Linked DNA regions of Homo sapiens: all the other regions are reported to be linked to region 4. Evidence: microRNA targets listed by miRTarBase, many of them from high-throughput screens and not tested one by one. Region 4 holds a microRNA gene; each other region holds the end of a gene's coding sequence.

Region 1 (5,102 bases), not on the chromosome of region 4:
TCCTCTGGAAGGGCAGTGGCGAGCCCTTTCTGCAGACAAGGAAGCTGGCGTTCTGAGTGGAGGAGTGTGGTCTGGGTTTTTGGGTGGGACTGATGTCACCACCAGCCTGTGTATGCTTCCCTCTGTAGGTGCCCCCAGCGAGGACCCCCAGTTCCCCAAGGTGCAGTGGCCACCCCGTGAACTTTGTTCTGCCTGCCACAATGAACGCCTGGATGTGCCCGTGTGGGACGTGGAAGCCACCCTCAACTTCCTCAAGGCCCACTTCTCCCCAAGCAACATCATCCTGGACTTCCCTGCAGCTGGGTCAGCTGCCCGGAGGGATGTGCAGAATGTGGCAGCCGCCCCAGAGCTGGCGATGGGAGCCCTGGAGCTGGAAAGCCGGAATTCAACTCTGGACCCTGGGAAGCCTGAGATGATGAAGTCCCCCACAAACACCACCCCACATGTGCCGGCTGAGGGACCTGAGGCAAGTCGACCCCCGAAGCTGCACCCTGGCCTCAGAGCTGCACCAGGCCAGGAGCCTCCTGAGCACATGGCAGAGCTTCAGAGGAATGAGCAGGAGCAGCCGCTTGGGCAGTGGCACTTGAGCAAGCGAGACACAGGGGCTGCATTGCTGGCTGAGTCCAGGGCTGAGAAGAACCGCCTCTGGGGCCCTTTGGAGGTCAGGCGCGTGGGCCGCAGCTCCAAGCAGCTGGTCGACATCCCTGAGGGCCAGCTGGAGGCCCGAGCTGGACGGGGCCGAGGCCAGTGGCTGCAGGTGCTGGGAGGGGGCTTCTCTTACCTGGACATCAGCCTCTGTGTGGGGCTCTATTCCCTGTCCTTCATGGGCCTGCTGGCCATGTACACCTACTTCCAGGCCAAGATAAGGGCCCTGAAGGGCCATGCTGGCCACCCTGCAGCCTGAACCACCTGGGGAGGAGGCGGGAGAGGGAGCTGCCATCTCTAGGCACCTCAAGCCCCCTGACCCCATTCCCTCCCCTCCCACCCCTTGCTCCTTGTCTGGCCTAGAAGTGTGGGAAATTCAGGAAAACGAGTTGCTCCAGTGAAGCTTCTTGGGGTTGCTAGGACAGAGAGCTCCTTTGACACAAAAGACAGGAGCAGGGTCCAGGTTCCCCTGCTGTGCAGGGAGGGCAGCCCCGGGCAGTGGGCATAGGGCAGCTCAGTCCCTGGCCTCTTAGCACCACATTCCTGTTTTTCAGCTTATTTGAAGTCCTGCCTCATTCTCACTGGAGCCTCAGTCTCTCCTGCTTGGTCTTGGCCCTCAACTGGGGCAAGTGAAGCCAGAGGAGGGTCCCCCAGCTGGGTGGGCTGGAATGGAACTCCTCACTAGCTGCTGGGGCTCCGCCCACCCTGCTCCCTTCCGGACAATGAAGAAGCCTTTGCACCCTGGGAGGAAGGACCACCCCGGGCCCTCTATGCCTGGCCAGCCTCCAGCTCCTCAGACCTCCTGGGTGGGGTTTGGCTTCAGGGTGGGGTTTGGAAGCTTCTGGAAGTCGTGCTGGTCTCCCAGGTGAGGCAAGCCATGGTTGCTGGGCTGTAGGGTGAGTGGCTTGCTTGGTGGGACCTGACGAGTTGGTGGCATGGGAAGGATGTGGGTCTCTAGTGCCTTGCCCTGGCTTAGCTGCAGGAGAAGATGGCTGCTTTCACTTCCCCCCATTGAGCTCTGCTCCCTCTGAGCCTGGTCTTTTGTCCTTTTTTATTTTGGTCTCCAAGATGAATGCTCATCTTTGGAGGGTGCCAGGTAGAAGCTAGGGAGGGGAGTGTCTTCTCTCTCCAGGTTTCACCTTCCAGTGTGCAGAAGTTAGAAGGGTCTGGCGGGGGCAGTGCCTTACACATGCTTGATTCCCACGCTACCCCCTGCCTTGGGAGGTGTGTGGAATAAATTATTTTTGTTAAGGCAAGCATTGGTGTGTTCTTTAACTTGCTACTTGGAGACCTAGTGTCCAGTCTGGACAGAATGCACAGAGACCAGCCTCACCTGGAATGCAGCCAGACTCGATGTCCCTCAGCACACACAGCTCCTGGCCACAGACTGCCCATAGAACTGTCTGCACCCAAACCCCATGGCCTTTTCATGCACGGAGACAGGCCTCTGGATGTGCAGCCTTGCCACCCCCTGCCCCAATCCTCCCTGAGAGCTCCTGCCTCAGTGCCCTGGGCTGGTGAGGGAGAAGCCTGTCTGCACCTGCCTAATTCCAGCTCCTCCAGGAAGCAAGGGCTTGTTTGTCAGAGCTGCAGGGTTGGCCACTCGGTGGGGAGGAGTCAGCCAGGATTAGAGAGCCTGCCCCTAATCCGGCCTGCTGGGTTTTACAAGGATCAGAGCTGCTGATAATGAACCTCATTAAGGGGGAGCAGGAGCCTCAATCCGATTTGGTTTTCTCTTTGACATCTTCACTCTGCTCAGATGGCCTGGGTGCTATGTGGAGCAGGTGGGATGCCAAGGCCACTCCTGCTATGGGGCAGCTGGGGCTGGGGAGGGATGGCAGTCTCCCTGCATGTTTCCCTCGACCTCTTTAGCTGCAGCGCCTTGCTGGGCTCCTGGGTTGGACTCCCTCTCTGTGCCCCTGCTCCAGGCACCCATTGGCTCCATCCTCCTGGTTGTGCTCTGCACCCCCTGCTCCCTTGGGCTGGCCCTGGCTGGGGGCCTGAGAGACAGACAGGAACCCACAATCAGGAGGCAACCCTGGCCTGCAAGAGGAAGACAGAGGCTCCCAGGGCCGGTGCCCTGTGTGCCCACTGCACCAAGGCCGCTGAATAAGCCTGCCCTTCACCCCCTAAGGGCTCCTTGCCCAATGCCAAGTGCTGGGGATTTCTGTCAGCAAGCCCTGTGGCTCCAGTGACGGTATTTCTAAAGCCAAACTTAGTTACCTAGAATTAGCGCCATGTTGGAAACACTGTCGCAGCAGCCCGGGCTGCACAGTGTGTAGCCCAGCCTCCAGGTCCACGGAGTGGTGTGGACCTCCCACCTCACAGCTGCCTCTGGCAGCCAAGCCTCTTTTCGCCCGGCCCCAGCCCCTCTGGTTGATAAACGGGTGGGCCTCCTCAGCAGCGTGGCTGCCTTTCACCTTGATTTCCCCAGGGCTCTCGGCAACATCGATAAACCAGCCTCGCCCACCAGCTGGGCCCTCCCCCACCCAGTCTGCCAGGCTGGGAGCTGGAGCTTGCTGAGTCTTGAATGCCCTTCTAGATGGCTTCTCTAGAGGCTCTCCTGGCAAGAGAGGGTCCCAAGGGGAGCCCTGCAAAGCAAAGGCTCCTTGTCTGGGGCGGGATAGAGAATCTCGCCTCTGTCTGGTGTGTTACCTACTGGGGGCACAGGAACAATTTCCTCAAGGAGACAGTGGCATGGAGCTTTGAAAGACGAGTAGGTGTTAGCAAGGAAATAAGGAGGAACGGGGGTTACGGGCAGAGGAGAAAGCACATGCCAAGTCAGCAAAGAAAAGTAGAATTCGAAAACTTTTTAAAAATATTACTAAGGATTTTCACAATGCTGCACTGGGCTAGAAACTGAAGCTAAAACAGATACGTGGTCCCTGCTGCTATGGGGCTTCCGTTCTAGAGGCAAGGACAGGTTGTGATGAGGGTTCTGAAGGATAGAGACCAAGCAGGGAGGGTGTTGAGGAGGCTTCTGCGAGACCTGAAGGATGGGAAGCCAGGAAGTGGGAGGGGTGGGGGTCCAGGCTGGAGGGGCCCAATGTAGGTGTAGAGGGACTACAGCCCTGAGGGGCTGCTCCATGCGGCATTCTTGGAGGTCCAAGAGGGGCAGCGCCACCTTGGGCCAGGCTCCTCTCCAGCAGCCTTGGTATGGGGTGGGGGTGGGAAGACCCCTGATGCAGCCTGTCCTCTGGGTGTGGGGGTGGAGGAGAGGGCTCCAGGGGACCCAGCCAGCCTTGACCCTGGAGGAAAGTCAGGTGGGCTCAGAGAGAGCCCTCAAATCTGGGCCCTGGGTCAGGGTGGGGTCAAGTCCAGCCTTGAAGAGAATGGACTCTGGAATCTGACGTCTGGGTTTGAATCCAGCTTCCAACACTCACTGGCTGTGTGACTTTGGGCAAGATAACTTATCCCCTTGTCCCCATGTGTCATTGGAGATAAACTACCCACCTACCAGATTGTTGTACCATGCTGGGCAAACACTAAGTGCTTAATAATGGTAGCCCACTGCTCATGTCGTGTCGTCTCCTGTCTTGATACCTGAAAACTCAAGGGGCCCTGTTGTGCTTGGAGGGGGGTGCCGTTCCCACAGGATATTCTGTGAAGGGTGTCCCTGGAGCTGGGCCTCCAGGTGGCAAGCCCCAAGCCACCCCGGCAGGTGCCACTGGCCAGAGTTGAACTGAGGTGTTGAGTGGAAAGTGCCTCCCCACCCCCATCTGCCACAGTAGTATGGATTTCCTTCATGAGATGGGGCTCCTAAAATGCCTGAAATGTGTATGCTGTTGGAGAATTGATGTGTATGATTTATTGAACTTTGCACTCATTTAAATCTCATTTAATCCTCCAACAACGCAAGATGAAGAAGCTGAGGCTTAAAGAGATTAAGAAACATCCTATCCCCTTTACTCCCACCAAAATAAATACATTTGCCCTATTCTCCCAAATGGTGAGAGGTAGATCCAGGACTTGACCCCAGATCCCACCCACTCAACCCTGGAGCTGCAGTCTCTACCCCTTCTAACACATGTGATTCTGTTTCATGTCCTGTTCCATCGGTAGAGTTACACACTTTCCTGAGACTTTATATGGTGGTGCTGCTGGGTGCCAGCCCTTCTTCCCTCCAACAGTGGCAGTAACCACTGTTGTGTGTTGGTGTCAAGGAGTGGGGACACCCTGAAGGAATCCGCCTTTTCTAGAGCTCTCGCTCCATTCCCTACATCGAGGCTGAAGTGCCCTGTCTCGGGTCCTTGTTTTTAGGCCTCGTTTGAAGGAGGGGAAGAAACCAGGTTCGTTGGGCGTGACCTTGGCTCAGCTCGTCTGTGAAATTGGGGCCGCAGACTTAGTTTGCGGGTCCCTGCTAAATTCCTCTCCCTCTTCCTGGGATTCCCATCCATGTATTGCCAGCTACATGTAGAGTGGAGAGGAGAGGTTTTTCCTGCAGGGCCTTCCAGAGA
Region 2 (5,102 bases), not on the chromosome of region 4:
GCCACACCAGGAGTCCCAGTTAGAATTTTTTTTAAAAATGCATTTGTGTCATTTTGTTTAGAAAGACAAAAACTATCTTTAAACTTAAAACCAGATTTTAAACTACTTTTCTAATCGTATGAATTGGTCATGACTCAATCTTCCAGATTCATTTTTAAAATCATGACTATGAAAATAATACTTTTTTATAGGAGATAGACATGTTTGAGAGTACGTTATGTGGCCAAGAATGTGAGATTTGTTGCTCTATTTCAGTATAACAAACTAGAAGGATCTCTCAAGTAATTATTTTTTAGTCATTGTTGTATGTAATTACAGACCACCCAATAGGAGCAAACAATGAATAGTTAACCAAATTTAGTAAATACAACTTAACAAAAGTAAGAGAACAAAAGTGAGAACATGTAAATGTAATATTTGTTGTTTTATATATTCCAGATTCAGAACAATTTGTGGGCAGGAAATGCAAGTGGTGGTTCTGTGGTTACTTCATGCATGTTACCACGTGACACTTCCTCCTGTATGACACCTTATTCTCACTCGCCTCGGACAGATTCCAGTTACACGGGGTTTTCAAACCACCAGAACCAGTTCAGCCACGTGCCCCTCAACAATTTTTTCACTGACTCTCTTCTTACTGGGGCAACCAATGGACATGCATTTGAAACAAAGCCAGAGTTTGAAAGGAGGTCTTCCAGTATCGCAGTTCTTCGAATGAAAGCCAAGGAGCACACCGCCAATATTTCATGGGCCATGTAACATACAGTACTCTTTTATTTTTCTTTTAATAGCAAAGTTAAACATTCTTATTTCTCATATTTAAAGGATACCACAATAAGCTGCTGTGTGTGGAATTGCTAAAGGTCAAGATATTCAGTGAGACCAGCTTAAATGAATAGTTGTTATTTAACATTAAAATCTAAGAATGAACCTCTGAAAAGACTAAATAGGTTTACCATGTGCCAGTCTCCACAAACCCTGTTTTAGTAGTAAGGTTTTCTTTTTCTATTGTACAAGTCAATGAAATATGATCACGCAACTTATTAAAGAATAAATGTGTTAAACAAATTCTTCTGTTATAGATTGATTTATGTTACTTCTGTATAACAAGAAATCTCATGTAAAATAATACCTGATAAAGAAGGAAATGCACTGGGGAAAATGTCAAGATGCCAAAGTCGTCAGGTAAATATTGAATCAGGGTGTTCTGGGGAGTTAACTGCTCTCTCTCTCTCTCCAAAAAGCAGTGGGCAAAAACCCTGTTGCTGAGAATTTATTTTCAAGCCTCATTTTTGTTTTTGTTTTTACCCTTTGATGTTTTAGTGAATTTCCACTCTGTTAAACAAGGGATCTTTTAAAATAACCAACATTCGCATGAGATATTTGGGCATGGTTTCCTGAAGCCACATGGCTAAAGGTGATAACTGAAGTATTCTGGTGTGATTGAAAATATAGTCATGGGAGCGGACTTTATAAATGTCATTTTTCCAGTGAAGAAGCCAGCATAGACTCAATTACTTAATCATCACAAACAAGAAAAAATTTATAAACCTTGCTGTTGCTTTTAAACTAAGATCGTGTTGATTAAACTGTGCACATAAACCACTAATTAATACTACACTGAAAGTAACATTTTCTGTTAAAGCATCAGCGAGTTGGAATTTATATGTATTTTGTGGGTATGTGCATGCTTACATGCATGTGTGTTTGTTTCTCAACATATTATGCCTTAAGCATTTTTTGCTACTGTGGTTTTTGCATAGAGAATTAAAATGTCAGAAAGCTTTCTAAAATTTCTGTTGGAAAAGAAGAGAAGAAAAATACGTTGCATCTGGAAAATTGCTAACCCCTTTGATTTACTTCTCCTCCCTTTACCCTGTCACATTCCAAGCTTTTTCAGATGAGTGAAATGTCAACCTCCATGAAAGATTCTTAAGTTCATAAAGGCAAAGTAAATTAATTGAAATGAAGATGACTTCCATGGCTCAGATTAGAGCTGAGCTCTTTGTACTCTGTAGAATCTTCTTGTGGTTCCTGCAGACTTTAGGAATATGCTTGGGAGCTCTAATGGCTAAAGGACGAGAATAAATGAATTTTAAAATTAAATTTTGGAAAAAGTACTTAAATCCCGTAAGTGTATCTTCTTAGTGGGAAAATATTTATAGCAATTAAACATCTTTTGTAATAAAATTTTAAATCAAGCTGATGATAGAAATGAGTAATGTCCTAAACAAACATTCCCTGACTTCATAATACTTTATTCTTTATTACTTTTGTGTTCCCTTTCTTTATTTTTGTTTCTAAAAGAAATGTGTTCAATTTGGCTGTGAGAATTATGCTTTCATGCAAGATCTTTTGTTAAAAGTCTATTTAGGCAGCTGTTAAATATCCTTTTTGGTTTTAGAAGAGAATGACTTATTTTCATATATATTCATATATGTGGTTAATAGGAATTTGTGAACTAAAACTTAAAACAAAAAGGTAAGATTTTCTTTTCAAAAATTTCACAAATTAATAGTGTTCATTTTCATTTTCTTCCTCTTTAATTTAAATTTTAGTATCCCTTGGCTAGTACCATATATTTTTCAAATGAGAGACAGAAGTCATATTGTCAAGTTCAAATTTCATTTTCTTCCTCAGTTTTTCTAGTCTTTTTCTCCTTATACTTAATAATTAGGTAATAATTAGTTGGAGCTTCTATAACTATTTTTTCAATTGAAACATCTTTTTAATTAAGGTTTTACATCTATAATTCTCTGTATAATTCACATATTTTAAAAACATAGATGAAGGACTATTTGCAATAATAAAATAAGTAATGGAATCATAGTTCTTGTCCTTTATGAGTTCACAATCTTCCTGGACAAACACATGCCTGAAGTTTTTACCCTCAGCCATGCCTCAAATTGTATTATGGCAGTAAGAATCTCATGAATTTTCCTGTGTTAACATTCCAACTTCCTTTTTTACACAGTGAATTTTTATTATGTATTCAAGTTGCCAAAAATAAATAAAATGAACTTTTGATATAATAGGGTAAGATAAAGCTAAAACAAAGTACATAAAATGAATTTCCTGAATTTTCTCTTGCTCCTTCTGAATTTAAGTTTCAATACTAGAATTCATATTGATGTTATATACTTTTCTTAAGAGAAAAAACTAAGGAACATTTTACTTACTTTTATTTGGGCTTATTATTGATAGTATTATTGGGAGTTTTGGTACAATAAGTAATTTGAACCACATGGACATTTGTTCCCATGGCTATCTCATCCCCTATTTGCCCCTTCCATACATTTTCCTTGCATACATGGTTTAAAAGATGCTTCTTGTACTCTTTTTCTTGAGCAACATGGTTAACCCTTGAACCTCATGAGGAGAGATAAATTTATGGGAAAATTAGGTAAGGTTGCAGTTTCTTAAGGATAAAATGAAATTTAAGAAATGGTTTATAAATTTTTGAAAGTGTCTTATTTATTTGTTATGAATATTAAATAGTAAGTATTTTATTCTTACATAATATCTTATGAAAGTAGAAAAATAAAGTCACTGCAGTCTTTGCCCTGAGTCCTGACAACATATCTTAAAGGAATAACAGTTATGTAACCTATATAACCTTGAGGAAACTCATGAAATTGTGTGTATAAATTATGGGAATGTATTAGTTTCATCCTTTCATCTGACTGCTTATTTTGCCTTCAAGGGAGGGATAACAGGCAGACCATTTGACTTAACACAGTTCCTCCCAAGATGATATGCAATTGTTTACTTTTTGTCTCTTTACTTTCTTCTCTCAAATACCTTTGGACTTAATACAGTTCTTCTCAAGACAATATGCCATTGTTTTCTCTTTGTATCTTTACTTTCTCATCTCAGACACTTGGTGCTTGTTGTGATTGCCATGGTATAATTCACATATCACCTCTATCTGTGTGTGTGTGTGTGTGTGTGTGCGCGCGTGTGTGTGTGTGTGTGTGTGTTTTTCGGAGTTTCGCTCTTATTGCCCAGGCTGGAGTGCAATGGTGTGATCTCGGCTCACTGCAACCTCTGCCTCCCAGGTTCAAGCGATTCTCCTGTCTCAGCCTCCCAAGTAGCTGGGATTACAGGCGCCTGCCACCATGCCAGGCTAATTTTTTGTATTTTTAGTAGAGACGGGGTTTCGCTATATTGGCCAGGCTGGTCTCGAACTTCTGACCTCAGCCTCACAAAGTGCTGGGATTATAAGCGTGGGCAACCACGCCCAGCCTCCATCTGTTTTATGTAATGCTGTTCTATATATAATGCTATAGTTTTAGTTAACCAGCAACTAAAAAAATGCCTTGGATGAAATAAGAAGTGAAAAGATCAATTACAGTGTTTATATAAGCTTTGAAAATTTTAATTTCCTAAATTTATCAGTGGCTCTTATTTCTGTCTTTCAACATTTAATTCAGATAATATTCTATACAATAAGTAATTATGTTAGCATATTTTGTATTAAAATATTTGTCACTTATACTACCAAATATTTTAGGAGAAAAATTTAAATGATCTTATTTTTAAAATTCCAGTTGGTGGTGACCTCTCTTTTCTCTAATTAGAATGTAAAAATATATCTTTATTACTTAGCTCATAATTGTTCTCTTTAACCTATTTCTACTTTTAAAAATTAGGCATTTAAAACTTCAACAGATATTATTTCCTTATAGAAATTCATATATTGCATTGACTAAGAAGTATGACTTTTTGCAAGATAATCTACTTATTAAAGTGATATATTAAATAATATTTTAGCTCTTGGCCTCTAAGTCCTATTATATATATTTTATATACGCCAGGTAGTATTAAATAATTTCACTGGTGGTCAAATATGCAAATGAAGTCATAAATGAAATACCTAGCAGTACAGCTCCATTTATGGCCCAAAATCTCAAAAATGATTAAATGTGATATTTTATAGCACATAGTAAATGCTGAAAGAGGTTTTTTTTGTTTCAGTAATTCTCTTTATATAAGCATATTGTCATTAATCTTGGAAATGTACTGCAAGATGGTGAACAATGCTTCAAGACAGGAACTAGCTAATTCTTCAGTTTTACTGAATAAAATAGTAAAGAGCTGAA
Region 3 (5,101 bases), not on the chromosome of region 4:
CCACCCGTCCAGGAAGCAGTCATAAAGTGAAAGGGCTCCAGAGGTGATGCTCACAGCCCTGGGTTCGGCTCCATTCTGACCTCCCTGAAGCGCTGGGTTAGACGGGCACCATCAGCCCACCTCACAGGCTCGGCGTCGGGTGAGCTCGTGGACGCTAATGCTTTCTGTCCACTCTGAGGTGCTGCTCCAGATGTGGGGCCCTCCCAGAGGGCCTCGGAGACACCATAGGGGAACAGGGAGAGGGGCTCGGTCCCTGGGCCTGACACAGCACTGCTGCTCAATAAATAAATGCAGGTGACCTTGCCTGACGCAACAGCTGTGCCTCCAGAGGGGGTGGGACTCGGTACTGTTTCTGACACGGAAATGCACCCAGGAGCTCCTGGCTGAAGGGAATTGGCTTGTGAAGTACATAACCACCCCCTAAGCCACCTGCTCCACCTCTGGGTGTAAAAGAGTGAGCTCTGGGCTGTTGGAGAACCGAGTTCCAGTCCTGCCCACCCACTAACACAGTGGGACCTCAGGCAAGCACTTTCCCCTCCCAGGACCTCAGCTCCCTGCTTTGAAATGGGGATGACGGCACAGGCCACCACCTACTCCCCAGGGGCTCTTGTGAGGGCCGAAGGGCACACTCGAGATAAAAGCATTCTGAAAACAAAGTCTGAAAAGCACAACAGGAAGGCCAGGTCTCACTGCATCTGAAGGTTTGGGGAGGACTTGCCTGAAATGAGGCGCCCACAGCTGCTCCCATTCCCTCACTGCCCCAGGCAGGAGCTGGTGTTTCCTAACTCTCCCTCCAGTTGGTCCTGAAGAGGCTATGGCCCCTTACAAGGGCCCTCCACCCAGGCATCAAGGTCTAGACCCAATCCTGTGTACCCTCAGTCAGCTGGGCCAGCCCCCAAGGAGAGCTGAGTCTCCCTGGCAACCCTCTCCCCCAGACCCAGGCCCAGAGAAGTCACTGGTTTATAGAGGTGGAGCCCAGTAGGGCTGTGCAGCCCAGGGCTTCGAGGCCAGGAATCCTTGTCCCAGCAGACATGCACTGGAGCAACGGTCTCCTGTCGCCTGAAGAACAATGGAGCCCCTAGTTCTTCCCCCTTTGCACCCTTGCTGAGGGGTCTTGTGTGAGTCACTTCCTGTTTCTGGGCCTCAGTTTCCCAACCTCTCAGATGGGCTACAGCTTGTCCTGCCCATCTTTTGGGGGGCCATTAGGCTTCAAAGAAAGAAGGGAGGAGGAGGTATGGGCAGTGGCAGCCCCACCTCATACTGCCCTGGCTCCGGCTCAGCCTCTATTGGGAGGAGGGGACCCAGGCTGGGGGTGCCACTGAACACACAGGTGACTCCAGGGGTGGCTTTTCCCCCAAGCTGGGTCTTGATTTCCTTGTCTGTAAAATGGAAATGGACTAATGGTCCCAAAGGCCCTTCAAGGGGGTTCTGGAGAAGGAGAGTGGAGATGGCTCCTTCCCATGGTATCCTGCATGTGATCTTGGCCCAGAGATTGAAAACAGTCATCCCCTGGAGACCCCAGCCCCCCAGTGGCCCCTAGTGCCAGCCTCTCTGCTCCTCTTCAAACAGTGCAGCCTGAGTCAGCAAGGGGCCAGGCAGTAGCGGGGACAGGATGGGCTTGAAGCTTCTCCGAAGCTAATGATGAAAATGTCACTCTCCTCCCCAAACCCCCATCCCTTGGTGAGGACAGACCGTAGTTCCCACACCCAATGGTCACAGCCCCTGGGAAGGGGCACATGCTCACGATGACACAAAGAAACAGGGCTCCAGCCCCCAGCTGCTCCACCCCTCCAGGAGGTGAGCGGGATTTCACAGAACAAACAAGAAAATCATTGAGGGGGCCCTCACTGACCACCCCCAGGTGTTGTTATTGCTTCGGAGCTCTCTCTCTCTTTATAAAGGCTGTGCAGACACCAGGGGAAGGGCTCAGGCTGTCAGGGCCAAGCCCCTGCTCCCCCTGGTTGGGACAGCCAGGCTCTGCCCTGTTTTTGAAAAGCTACCCCTGAACAACCACAGCGGTGATGGCTGGAGAGAGAAGGCGCTCTCCTGGCTCAAAATATTCCAATGGTAAGTAATAAACGAACAGCAGAGAAATCACACTGGTTAGAAAAACAAACAGGCAAGGGGCCAATTCTGTGCCTTGAATGCGAATCCCTCCAGAGCCCTGCTCCTTCCACCCCCAGCCTTGGGATTCCACCCACCGCGGTCCCAGGAAACTCTGAAGACCTCCTGGGTAAAGGGGGCGTCTCCATCTCCCCTTCCCAGTGCAGGGTAAGCAGCTCTGTGGAGGTGATATACATTGACCAGAACTTTAAAGAATACCCAGGGTTTCCACAGGCTAAGGGAAGGGAAGAATTTCCGGGTGGAAGGAGTTGCCTGGTGGGACTGGGACCGGGACCGGGACCAGGAACAGGGTGGGACCAAAGGCAGCCTGGGTGTCCTCAGGAGAAAACAACACCCTCTAATGGAGACCAGGCCCCCTCTGCCAAGGTCCTACAACCCTTAGGAGTCCCTCATAAAGAAAGTCAGTACCAAGAATAATAAATCAGAACAGCCGAGTATAACAGGCAGCTCCAGCTATAACCCTACGGGGACAAGGGAAGGAAGGGGGCGGAGGAGGAGGGGCTGGCCTCCTGTGAGCCAGGCTGCCCCATCTAGGCCCAGGCCAGCGAGGAGACAGTGGTCTCCTGGAATGTACTTGAGGCTCCTCTCCACCCCCGGTCCTGGGACTCTGTAAGGACTATGCATGAGCTAAGAACAGGCCCCAGGGCTTGGAGCACTAACTCTACCTAGCTAACCTGGACTACGCCCTACACAGCAGGGACTAGGTAAAGAGTGGCAGGCTTCTGGGTGCCTCCCAGGGGAGGTGGCAGAAATGTGCTTCTATAAAGAGGGGCCAGCCTCCATCCTCCCTTGCATGCAAAAGGGCTCCCGCAGGCCCCAGGGAGGGCTGGGCTGGGAAGGCAGCTACCCAGGCCTGCTGGAAAAGGAATCTCCCAGTTCTTACACTCACGCCTCTTCACTTTTCTCTCCTACCGCCATCTTTCCTTCAGCCAAGGTAATTGAGGCCGGGGCAGTGGGTTCTGCCCTTAGTATAGGATGTTTTTTTTAAAAAGACTAAAATAGGGGGGCTCTATTTGCCTCCCCAGCCCCCTGGCCTGGAGGCAGGGTGGGTAGACAGGATGACCATTGACCTCATGCAACAAGGAGGGGTTCTCCAATTTGAGAAACCCTTATCTTGGCACCACCAGTCCCAATCCCAACTTTCCTTAGCCTCCCCCTCCAATACAGCACCCCCAAATGCTCTCTAGGGTTGGGGTTCTGGAAACTCAGGTTCCACAGCTCCTCCACCGGAACACAGACGACAACATTCTTTCTAGTCCGCCAGCGGTTCCTAAACTAGCTTGTTGCAATCCCATGGAGCGAGGCACCTAGGGGTCTGTGCCAGGCCCCCGGCACCTCCTCCTTTCCTTTGGTCCCTGCTGAACCCCAATTCCTAGAGCCACCAGAAGAGGGGCAGGCAGGAGGGGACGGACGGATGGACTCGGACAGGCTGCGGCAAAGCTCCTTCCACGGGCAGGCAGAGGGAAGCTCAAGCTCCTCTTCAAGTGGGGGGCTCTGGGCCCCTGGGAGCTGGCTCCGGATCCTTGCAAAGCTGCCCCTTCATCTCTGGGGCAGGAGTAGCTGCCTGAACCCGGTGCCGCAGGAAAGACACTTGCTGGTAATTGGCACCATGGAGATGGCCGGCTGGGTTCTGGACATGGCTCTGGGCAGCGAGCTTCCGAGGAGGCAAAAAGGGGGAGAAGTTGGACAGTTTGGGAAGGGAGAGTGGTCTGCTCTGCCACCTCAATCTTTCCTTTCTCTGGACTGCAGCCACATCCACCAGGTCAAGAACCGGCCAAGTCAAAAGTGTAGCCAATCCCGTTGGGAGAGGGGAGGTCTCGGGGGTAGGAGGCAAAGAAGGGGTGAGGAGGGGCCCAAGGGGGGGCAGGTCTCCCCGTTCTGCTTCCCCACTGTGGGGGAGAGCCCCGTCCTCCTGTTCAATGTGCCCCTGGGCCTGGGGTCCCAGGTCAGGGCTGGGTGGTCTCCAGGCCATCTTGGGGAGCCCCTCCCCATTCCAGCACTAAGATCGTTCTCCGCAGGGCCCCACGGTGCTCTCGAGGGACAACTGGGATGCCTGCCGGAGCAGGGGGCCTGTGGCTGGGTCCACCATGGAGGAGGTGGGGAAGAGCTTGTACCAGCCCACGGCCAGGGTGGTCAAGTCCAGCTCCTCCAGCAGCACGCGAGCCACACCCATGAACTGCTTCCGCTCCATCCGCCCGTAGTTCCCCCACACGATCACCTGTGGGGCAAGAGACACAGTGGTTCAAATCCTGCCAGTGCCACTCACAGGCCCAGAAGCAGAACCTGGGTCGCCCCATGCCCAATCCAGCTCAGTCCTGTGATTTCTACCTCCTTAAAACTGCAATTCCTCAACAGGCCTTTCTTATCACGGGGCATCACACCAAGCCCCTGGCCTCCAGAGGCTGTTGATGGTAATGGTGACGGTGACGATGGTAATGGGTAGAACACTTGCTGTAGGCAAAACTGCAAATACTTTTCCTGCACACAGCACACATTCCACTGGCACCAGAATGTTATCAGGTAGGTACTATTAGGGTCCCCGCTTTACAGATGAAGGAACTGAGGGTCAGAAGGGAACTTGTTCAAAGTTGTGCAGTAAGTTGTGGAGCTCAGTTCAGCCACAGTGAACTGAGGGCCTCGCCTGTTTCCTCCAGGCGAGGCCCTCCAGAGACACCCCCCGCCAGGGGTGCCCTCCTCTCATTCTGGTACTGTGCATGTGTGCTCGTGCACACACACACACGTGAGCGCGTCAATGCCCCTCACCTGGAGGACTTTGCCCTGGGGACTCTCAGGAAACAGCAGCACCTGGTTATACAGTGGGTCCAGCGACTTGCGAGCGACTTTGGTCTTCTTCTTGGCAATGCAGATGCCATTCTCTAGCAGGTAGGCCTTGATGTAGGCCGCTGGGGATAGAGGCCAGCAGGGGTGAGTTCTAGTTTGGCCCTCAAATGGTGGGCAAAGGGTGCAACAGAGGGAG
Region 4 (5,102 bases):
AAGGCCAAACAAACCCAGCACCCCGCGGTTTCCAGAGCTGAGCCTCAAAGAACCCGGCCTGAAAAGGTTAGAGACAAGCGGATGGAGAAATATTTGTTAGCCAAAAGAAACCAAGGGTAGAAATACCTCATGAAACACTATAAGCTCTCGGTCAAAGAAACATTAAACAAAGAGAAATATATTATATTTTGATAAGAGACCTGATCTACCAAAAGAACAGTCATTAATTTTTAAGCTTTAAAAAAAAACACTGAACTATATAAAGCAAAAAATGGTTATTAATGTAAAAAGAATATTATAAGACTATAATCACAGTAGAAAAATACACTTTTCCAAGAAATCGAGCAGACAGAAAAAAATAAGTAAAGCTATACTGATTTAAATAACTCAACTGAGTTAATATATAATTAAAACAACATATAAAGAAAGGATACATATCCTCCTATATATAAATAAAATATATATAAATGAGAGAACTTTTTTTTTTGAGACGGAGTCTTGCTCTGTCGCCAGGCTGAAGTACAGTGGCGCAATCTCAGCTCACTGCAACCTCTGCCTCCCAGGTTCAAGCGATTATCCTGCCTGAGCCTCCTGGGTAGCTGGGACTACAGGCACACGCCACCACGCCCAGCTAATTTTTGTATTTTTAGTAGAGATGGGGTTTCACTATGTTGGTCAGAATGGTCTCAATCTCTTGACCTTGTGATCTGCCCACCCTGACCTTCCGAAGTGCTGGGATTACAGCTGTGGGCCTCTGCGCCCGGCCGAGAACTTTAAATACAATATTGATACATACATACAGACGTCTTTAGACTGAAACAAAATCCTAAGAGCATACTTTCTCTTCAAATGCCTGCAGAGCATGTACAAATTATGATTATGTGTACACCAAGTCATACAAAAATATGCACCCCCATTAAAATAATCAAGTGTACTCAAACAATAATTTTCCCATAGCACACTGACAAAAATGAGAGAGACTGAACCTACCCAGTGCTGGTACAGCACAAATGAAAAATATGCATCCTCTTACACTGGAATTAGGAAGATCAGTTGGAACGAGGCTTCTGGAGCAATTTGACAGTCAACCTAATGATGTTTTAAGTGCACGGGCTCACTGACCCAGCTTCCACTTCCTGGAATTTGTCTAGTAGTGATACTTAGAAGTTTACAAAATATATGTATAATAATTGTTTGATGCCAATTTGGAATTGGTATAAACACTGCTACAACCACATAAATATCCATTCGCAAGGTATCAAAAGAGCAAGTTATATTTGCACACATACTGATACCAAAAGATGCTTATAACACATTAAAATGGACAGAATGTAAAACACAGGGCCCTGCCTATAGAATTATACTCTATGAAAATGCTCACACACATCACACTATGTTTAGACACAGAAAAAAGATACACTCTCACCCAACAGCAGCCCAGTGTAGGAGGGAGAGAGCCAGCTCCATTCAATGTCTATTTAGACACTTTGAGCCATAGCGCTTAATTTTGTCTTGGAATGATCATAAACCATTTCTTTACATCAGTCAATACATAAACAATTTAACTCAATAAAACTTTCATATCTAAAAAAACCTGGAATCTTGCCCTCTGGAATTTTCAGACAAAGACGATTCCACCCAGGGAAAGATGTGTGTAAGCGTTCCGGCAATCTCAAAGAGAGTGACCCAGACAGACCCTGAGCCTCTCTGCCTCTGCTCTAAGGAGCAGGACCCAGAGCCAAGGCTAACAGAGCCTCAGGTGCCTGTCCAAGCGTCTGTCCAGTGGCCACCGTCTTCTCTCTCATGTGGACGCAAGACAGAAGTCGATGGCTAAGTGCCCTTGAAGGCCACGGTGCGCTGGAAGTGGCAGGAAGCTGGGCAGCACAGGACTGGCTCTGCAGGAGCCCCACACTCAGGCAGGTCGGCGGCAGGCCTCGAGGTTTCATTATGGTGCACGCTCTCGGTGACTTTCCAAGGACAGAAAGTGTGAAGTCGTAAATGGATGGGCCCATGACATGCTTCTGAAGCTCAGAGCAGGACAAGCTTGCTTCCCAATCATGTGGGTCCCCCACCTACCAGCTCTGTGACCTCAGGCAAATTACTTCTTCCCTCCAGGCCTGAGATGATCTGGGGCTGTACTAAATGCTTGTAAAATGCTTAGTGCAGCCCCTCACAGAGGCCCTCAAACACCAGGAGCAACTGTGGCCACGACCTCAGTGGGAACATGAGCTTCTTCCCAGACAGCCCAGACGCCCAGTTGGAGGAGCACTCCCACCCCTCACACAACCCCTCATGAAACAACAAAGACACTGGGCAAGAAACCAGCTCTCCACATCACAACCTGACCTTTCAACATCACCCTTGTCAAAAAGCATCGAGGAAACCTGTGTGCCTCTCAAGTCAGCCTGCAAACCGGGGTCGCAGACTTGACTCCACATCCTCCCAGGTTTTATCATTCTTCTTTCACCAAGAGGAAGAATAAACCATCCATTTTGCACTTTGTGCTGTCAAAAACCAACAGTGACCACTATCAAGAAAAACAAAAGTCTCAAATCCAGAAAGCAAGCTGCAGTCACAAGAACTTCTACTTTGGGCAAAGAAAGCCCCGCTGTGTGCCCAGAGAAGAAATGACCCGGCCTTACCTGGATGGCTTTGGGAGCTCATTGCTAGCAATGTCCACTCCTTTAAGTGATTCGAAATGGCTCAAAATTTCCACGGAAACGATAGCTCCAACGAGCTCCAAACTCCCACCAACACATACAAGTACCGGGACGGTGAGGGCTGGGTCACAGACGTTCAAGCGCCGAGCCTCGCCGGCAAGGTCTCATGAGCCAGGTAACCCACAAGTTGAACAGAGGCGTCCGCTGGCTTCTGCAGATGAACCTGCAAGGTCAGAAGGAGAAAAGAGACTGGAGTTACAACATGGAAGTTCCGATCTGGAAAACAACATCCAACTAGGGAAATGATGACTTCCTCTTTTTTTTTGGAGACAGAATCTTGCTCTATCGCCCAGGCTGGAGTGTGGTGGCACGATCTGGGCTCACTGCAACCTCCACCACCCCTGCAACCCTGGGTTCGAGCAATTCTCCTGCCTCAGCCTCCCGAGTAGCTGGGAACACAGGTGCATGCCACCAGGCACAGCTAATTTTTGTATTTTTAGTAGAAACGGGGTTTTGCCATGTTGGCCCAGGCTGGTCTCAAACTCCTGACCTCAAGTGATCCACCCACCTCAGCCTCCCAAAGTGCTGGGATTACAGGCTTGAGCCACCACGCCCCACCAACTTCCTTCTTTATCCTTGTTCTGACCAAGGACTGATAGAACAGTTCGACGGAATCATTTCTACAAATACGAGCAGTGGGATTTTTGTTAGTAAATCACAGACATGTAAAAATGTCTCCAGAGAGCAGGGTTTCTCAGCCTCAGTACCACTGGGATTTTGGTTTGCGTATTTAGGTGTTGGGGTGTAGGGCTGCCATACACATTATAAGATATTTAGCAGGATCCTGGGCCTCCACACACCAGATGCCAGCAGCATCTTCCAGGTCATGACAACCAAGAATGTCTCCAGGGAGTGCCAAAGGTCCTCTGGGGGATAATATCATCCCCTGGTTCAAAATATCTGATCTAGAGACACCTTCCTTACCCCTTCCAGAAGTTTCTCCAACATTAGGCTTTTGAAAGGAAGCAGAGTATCTTCCAACTAATATAAATTTATTCTGTCATATTAGCTTATGAAATAAATATGAAATAAAATGTTTTAAAAGAAAAATCACTTTCAGCACATTCCCACCACAAAATGTCATTACTGCACGCTTGCATCAGCCTGGATCCATAGACATTCGTAGTCACAATGTCTGTGTAATCACAGAATTTAATTCTAAAGTCCGCATTCCTCACGTAACATGATAACCTAAAATAGTTCCCTCATGTTTCTGTCTTCATAATGACCATTTTCTCAGGTTTTCATTTTCTGCTTATAAAAGCAATACATGCGCATCACAGGTTAAGTATTTAAAAAGTCATCCATGATGCCATCACACACAGACAAGCCCTTGGTAACATTCTGACATGCTTCCTTGCCGTTGTTTTTCTTTGCCTTTTGCCCATACGAACCTCTAGTGATACAGCTGTCTATCACGTTCTCTGTGCTGATATTACAGCCAGGCATTTTCCAATGGCATTAACAATACCTGGTAAGCTTCGTTTTGAAGGGCTGTTTCCTATTCCATGTGTGGATAGACAGCTGCCCCGCCCCACTTCAGGAGCTTCGGATGAGCCTGCTGCTCCCAGGGAAGTGTCGGGCCAAAGAGTGGCATGTGGCACCAGCTGAGCTCATCAAGTTCTCTTTCCAAGGCCTGCCTCTTCAATAGATCAGTCACTAGATGAACCCAAAAGAGACAAGTCTCAGCACTCCTACCACTGAGAGTCCCTGGCTGATCCCAGCTCAAGTGCTTTCAGAGGCTTCTGTGTTCATCTTTCTTTAAAAGTGTGACCAATTCCTTTTCTTGATTTAATTAGTCTAGAAATTTTTTTTTTTTTTTTTTTTTTTTTTTTGCCAATTGCTTATAACCAAAGAACTCTAACCAGTTCATCATGTAAAGAATCACCCCCGCCCCCAAGGCTGGCTATCTAGATGCTTTCCAACTTTATGTTCATTGTATCTACAACTCTGATTAATATCTTCATGACTGTTGTTCTGTATCTGGTTATCTCCTTAGGAATGACAATGACTTATTTGTCTTCAGGGTCAGAATGTTTATTCATCTCTTGGTCAGAAAGAGACATTTTCTTGAAGGGAATGTAGATGGCATATTTTTCAAACCCTCACAAATCTCAGATGACAGTATCCTTCACACAAAAAAACACATCTCAGCTGGGTATAAAAATCTTAGATCACAAATATGCCCCCCTCAAAATTTTTGGATGTCATTCCCCCCTCAACATTGTAGGGAAGTTTAAGTCCAGCTCAATTACAGCTTCTTTCCAGGTAAAACTTTGGGGGCCGAGTCTTGATGTTGTGGTTGTTACCATTTTCTTCTGCCTGGAATCTACTGGCATTTTTTTCTTGAATCTTAAAATTCAAAAACGTTGTCAGAAGATA
Region 5 (5,102 bases), not on the chromosome of region 4:
ACCTGGAAGGTGGTGGTTGCAGTGAGCCAAGATTGCGCCATTGCACTCTAGCCTGGGTGGACAAGAGTGAGAATCCATCTCAAAAAAAAAAAAAAAAGGTGTGGGGTTTTTCTCCCCACACACCAAGCAACAGACCAGCTGGGTGGCCTCCAATTCAATTCCAACTCTGTCTACCGGGAGATAGTGTCGGATCGCACAGGTTGAGGCTCAGCCCCCAAGACTGCATCTCCCTCCCCTCAGATCCCAGTCAAAAGTCCAGGCCTCCAGAACTTCTGCCTGACCAGCTTCAAGTTGGGGTTCCCACGATCCCCTCTTTCGGTTTGATTAATTTGCTGGAGCAGCTCACAGAACTCAAAGAAACACTTACGTTTAGTGGCTTATTATAAAGGATACTACAAAGGATAAAGGTGAAAAGATGTGCACGGGGGAGGGTGCGGAGTGTGCACACCCTCCCTAGGTGCACCACCGGGGAGGAACCTGCACATGGTCAGCTACCCAGAGCTCCAAGAAGCCAGTCCTCTTGGGTTTTTAATGGAAGCTTCATGACATCAGCATTCCTTACACCAGGGTATAGAGTGAGGAGGAGGGTCTCTCTGGGGAGGGTCTTATAACCCACAATCTGAAAGTGAGGGTGAACAGTAGAGCCCTGCCTTGGGGCAAGGGAGAGGAGGGCAGAATGTCAAGAGGTTGTTTCCTGCGGCCTGCTCCTGAGGCCTGACACACTCAACATTAGAACAAAAGACTGAACAAGGGCTATGAGGGTTATGAGCCAGGAGCCTGGATGAAAACCAATGTATATATAACACCACGGTACCGATGTGGAACTCTGATATGAACCAATTTTCAAAGTGTAGAATAGTATGTTAACATGCTATTGTCTGTATTTTTAAAAAATACACATACCAATATATTTGATTACATAAGCATGGGGTACCTGGAGGGCATCAAAGGCAGCTGGTAACAAGTCATTGCCTGAGTAGATGTGAAGGACTAGAGGACAGAGTAGGAGTGAGATTTACTTTTCATTTTATATCCTTCTTATTATTTTTTGCCCCTTTAGCAATTTGGGTGAGCTTTGTGTATACATAGGGTTTTTTTTATTTTTATTTTTTTTTGGAGACGGAGTCTCACTCTGTCACCCAAGCTGGAGTGCAATGGCGCAATCTTGGCTCATTGCGACCTCAGCCTCCCAGGTTCGAGCAATTCTCCTGCCTCAGGCTCCCAAATAGCTGGGATTACAAGTGCACGCCACCACACCCAGCTAATTTTTGTATTTTTAGTAGAGACAGTGTTTTGCCACATTGGCCAGGCTGGTCTCGAACTCCTGACCTCAGGTGATCCAACCACCTTAGCCTCCCAAAGTATTGGAACTACAGGCGTGAGCCACTGCACCCAGCCAATAGGGTTCCTAATTGTTTGTAGTTTTGTTTTGTTTTGTAGAGATGGGGTTTCACCATGTTGCTCAGGCTGGTCTCGAACTCCTGGGCTCAAGCAATCCGCCTGCCTCAGCCTCCCAAAGTGCTGGGATTACAGGCATGAGCCACCACACCCGGCACCCTCTTGTCTGTATTTTTGATGCGGTTTCCCCTCCAGTCTTCATTTCCCTGTTTGCTGACTTCTTACTTCTTAGAATCCTCCTGGATTCTAGTGGATTCTAGTGAGCCCCACAGCTCTGAGTTCCTGATTGGACCTGCCTTCTGAGATGCACAGGCTGCAGGAGGGGCAGGGCCTGGCCTTGGCTTACCCCGACACTCTCACCACCACCCCACCCATCTGCAGCCCTAGGCCAGGAATACTGAAAGGGCAGCCTGGGTAGGACTCCTAGTTGGCCACAGAGTGGGGGGTAGCCCCCAGTGTTTGCTCAGCAGGATGGATCAAGAATCAGAACTAGCTTGCATGTACCCCACATCTTGTGACCCTTAGGCATACCACCCAGATAGGTGCCAAGGATTCCTCTTCTGGAAGGGAGGTAGAGGCTAATCTAGCAATGTCTAGATAGCATGTATTGTTAAAATGTATCAAAGTGTAGCCAGGCGTGGTGGCCCTGTAGTCCCAGCTACTCAGGAGGCTGAGGCAGGATGTCTTGAGCCTGGGAGGCAGAGGTTGCAGTGAGCTGAGATCACCCCACTGTACTCAATAATAAATAAATAATAAATAATATAAAATGCATCAAAGTGAAGAGGGGTACTTGGGGATTTCCAGGTCTAATCCCTTTATTTTACAGAAAGAAACAGAGACTCAAAGCAAAGTAATTCATAAGTGGTGAAGCTGGGGCTAAATCCAAGTCTCCTGCCACTGCGCACTTCAGGGTTAGAGCAGTGCTAGGAGTCCCACCAGGGCCTGGGTGAGAGATTCATTCTTAAAACTGGGCGTGAAGTCTCAGTCACTGAGAATGCTTGGTGCCAGCTCCCATCTCTAAGGACTGCTTTGAGGGAAGGAGTTGAATCCGGCCCCTTCCCCAAACCAGGGTAATGTATCATAGAGCAGAGAGCATACATAATCTTGGGAAGAGGGATAGAAGTGACAAAGATGGGCCAGGCGCAGTGGCTCACGCCTGTAATCCCAACACTTTGAGAGGTCGAGATATGCAGATCGCTTGAGCCCAGGAGTTCGAGACCAGCCTGGGCAACATGGTAAAACCCCGTCTCCACAAAAAATAAAAGATAAAAATTAGCTAGGCATGATGGCACATGTAGGTAGTCCCAACTACTCAGGGGCTGAGGCAGGAGGATCCCTTGAGCCCGGGAGGTTGAGGCTGTAGAAAGCCAAGATCATATCACTGCACTCTATTCTGGGTGACAGAGCAAGACCCTGTCTCAAAAAAAAAAAGGAAGTGACAAAGATACAACCACTTAGCTAGGTGTGCCTGTGGTCCCAGCTACTCAGGAGGCTGAAGTGAGAGGGTCTCTTCAGCCTGGGAATTCAAGGCTGCACTGAGGCATGATCGTGCCGCTGCACTCCAGCCTGGGCAACAGAACCAGACTCTGTCTCAAAAAAAGAAAAAAAAAGATGGAATGACTAACTCTTCTTGGACACTAAAGTTGAGCAGAAGGAACCCCTGGGCAGGAGGGGAAGTGTCACCAAGGGTCCTTCTTCCCAGGCCGCAATAGCCTGGCTTGGAAAGTCAGGCCCTTTGCTTTGTAGCAGGAGGAAGGTGATTCTTGGGACCCAAAACATGCCAGAGAACCTGGCGCCGAGTGTCCCAAGGAGGCTTCGCTTTTGGAACAGGCTTGGTCCTGTCCAGGTAGGCACTTCCTCATGAGTAACCCCTTCCAGCTCTCACAGTGGAGCCACATGCCTGCTGCCCGCTGACGACTTCTTCCCTTGCCCGACCTGTCTGAGCGGGTGGGTGTGAGCAGGTCATATTTACCAGGCCCTGCCCCAGGAGATGGGGAGATAGCACTGACTTCCTCTCTTCTCTTACCCAATCTTCCTCCCACGCCACGCCCAAACACGGCACTCCCCCAAATAGGTCTGTCACGAGCCACCTTGGAATTGTGAGGAGACTGCTGGGAGGAAGGGGCGGCCACCTTCCCCAGCCAGCAGAGAAGGGTCTGACTGCAACACAGATGGCTTCATCGTCACATTGAAAATAACCAAATATGAAAATGTGTTTTATTTCTCAGTACAAAGCCAGATACTGTAAGGCTATGAAAAACTGACTAGCCAGAGGCCAGAAAGGACAAAAAGAAGACTATCTCTGGCCTGGTGCCCTGTGATCTGGCGTGGTGTCACAGGAGGTCTGGGGACAGCAGCAAAGACCTGGACCGGTGGAGGTGGATGAGGGAAGCGATCTGCCAGCCCTTCCAGCCTCCCGCGGCTGGGGCCTGAGGATCCTGCCTGCCTTTGGGGGCCACTGGTTGCCTGGCCTGGCTGGTTCCAGGAATGAACTGGGAGAGGACAGGAGGTGCAGGGAGGGGGCGGGGGTGGGAGGCGTGACCCTTTTTGCACGGGAAGCTCTGTTTTCATTCCGTGCCACAGGTGAGTGTGCAGGGCTAGAGTTGAGAATGAAACTAGGGTGCTGTTGCCCCCAAAGGTACCTTCAGTCCCTCTACCACATCCCAGTTAGAAAGTCTTGAGCCCTTGGACAGGCAGACATGGGCCTGGGACTTAAGGCTGTAGGAGGTGAGGCTGTAGTGACAGGGGTGGGAGGTGAGGCCGTAGTGACAGGGGTGGGAGGTGAGGCTGTAGTGACGGGTATGGGGCGGAGCTGAGAGGAATGTGTGCGGCAACAGACGTGAGGGTGTTTCTCCAAGGAGTTGTGGATCCTCTTCAGTGTCAGGGGAGCGTGGGCATGTGTGAGGGCTCAGGCCTCGCCCTCCTCTCCACTGTCATGCACGCTGGCCTGTCTCACCACCTTCCGGAACCTGGGCGTAGAGGAAATGCAGGGCTCTCCCTGCCCCTGCCCCTGCCCCTGCTCCTGCTCCTGGAAGGCCTGGGTCCGGTTGGCCACCACGGCACTGCCCTGGAGGGTAACCACTGACTGGCGGGACTTCAGGGCAGGCTGAGGCCCCCTGTCCACCTGCTGGCCTCCCTTGGTCCTTGCAAGCTGTGGGAAGGGCTGCAGAGGCTCTTCATGTGAAGACTCGTGGGAAGAGAAGACCTGGACAGGTGTGAGGATACGGAAGCCATGGGAGGCCTTTCTGGGGCAGGGGTGCCCAAGCACAGAGCCGGGAAGATCTGGGGCAGGGGTGCCAAGCACAGAGCCAGGAGGAGGCGAGGGCCGGAATGTTTGTGGCACGCACGCCAAAAGCCAAGCTGTCCACAGCCACGCTTCCTCGGGAGGGAGGACAACACCCCAGCCCTGCTGCCCCGCTCCTTGAACCCTACCTGCTTGTAGCTTCCTTCTGGCCCCCAGAAGCCCTCCTCAGCTCCCTGGAGACCCAGGCCTCCCTGCCCTCCTCCCCTCCTATGCTTTCTCTGCCTTTGCGTAGGCAGCCGGCAGGTGAAACCCGTGCCGGCACCAGCCCCTGAGCTGGGCTGGGTGGATGCGTGCGTCCGGTGCTGGGTGAGGACCTCTTGCCTTTAGCAACGCCCACACCCGCCCATCAACCCACCACGCCTCCCTATCCTTCCCCACCCACACCTCCTCCAGGAAGCCT

Evidence for each region. The annotated mature microRNA hsa-miR-2467-5p reads UGAGGCUCUGUUAGCCUUGGCUC and lies in region 4 at 1,736-1,758, opposite strand. An mRNA with a match to its seed (bases 2 to 7 or 8) in the 3' UTR can be bound and repressed. Matches are read on the target gene's strand: a 7mer-m8 pairs with bases 2 to 8, a 7mer-A1 pairs with bases 2 to 7 and ends in A, and an 8mer does both.
Region 1: the mRNA of QSOX1 is a reported target of hsa-miR-2467-5p. Seed matches in the 3' UTR shown: 8mer at 1,230-1,237, 7mer-A1 at 1,971-1,977 and 8mer at 2,356-2,363.
Region 2: miRTarBase lists ALX1 as a target of hsa-miR-2467-5p. The part of its 3' UTR that is shown has no 7-base or 8-base seed match.
Region 3: the mRNA of RIMS4 is a reported target of hsa-miR-2467-5p. Seed matches in the 3' UTR shown: 8mer at 2,700-2,707.
Region 5: the mRNA of SSH3 is a reported target of hsa-miR-2467-5p. Seed matches in the 3' UTR shown: 7mer-A1 at 4,181-4,187 and 7mer-A1 at 4,127-4,133.

The regions. Positions count from the first base shown.
Region 1 is chr1:180,196,134-180,201,235 of GRCh38, forward strand. It overlaps QSOX1 (quiescin sulfhydryl oxidase 1), which reads left to right. Exons shown (of 12, transcript NM_002826.5): 12 at 129-5,102. The coding sequence ends at 904. Among named protein-coding and RNA genes, the nearest start is that of LHX4, 32 kb to the right of the region's middle.
Region 2 is chr12:85,300,717-85,305,818 of GRCh38, forward strand. It overlaps ALX1 (ALX homeobox 1), which reads left to right. Exons shown (of 4, transcript NM_006982.3): 4 at 439-1,068. The coding sequence ends at 759. Among named protein-coding and RNA genes, the nearest start is that of LINC02820, 15 kb to the right of the region's middle.
Region 3 is chr20:44,752,011-44,757,111 of GRCh38, forward strand. RIMS4 (regulating synaptic membrane exocytosis 4) reads right to left here. Exons shown (of 6, transcript NM_182970.4): 5 at 4,888-5,027; 6 at 1-4,342. The coding sequence ends at 4,124. It overlaps KCNK15 (potassium two pore domain channel subfamily K member 15), which reads left to right. Exons shown (of 2, transcript NM_022358.4): 2 at 1-303. Among named protein-coding and RNA genes, the nearest start is that of KCNK15-AS1, 8.3 kb to the left of the region's middle. RefSeq lists enhancers at 1-478, 4,726-5,101.
Region 4 is chr2:239,350,036-239,355,137 of GRCh38, forward strand. MIR2467 (microRNA 2467) reads right to left here and starts at 1,769; the gene lies at 1,689-1,769. It overlaps HDAC4 (histone deacetylase 4), which reads right to left. Exons shown (of 27, transcript NM_001378414.1): 2 at 2,643-2,883. The coding sequence starts at 2,664. RefSeq lists a silencer at 2,432-2,625.
Region 5 is chr11:67,311,092-67,316,193 of GRCh38, reverse strand. SSH3 (slingshot protein phosphatase 3) reads right to left here. Exons shown (of 14, transcript NM_017857.4): 14 at 3,602-4,603. The coding sequence ends at 4,307. Among named protein-coding and RNA genes, the nearest start is that of SSH3, 10 kb to the right of the region's middle.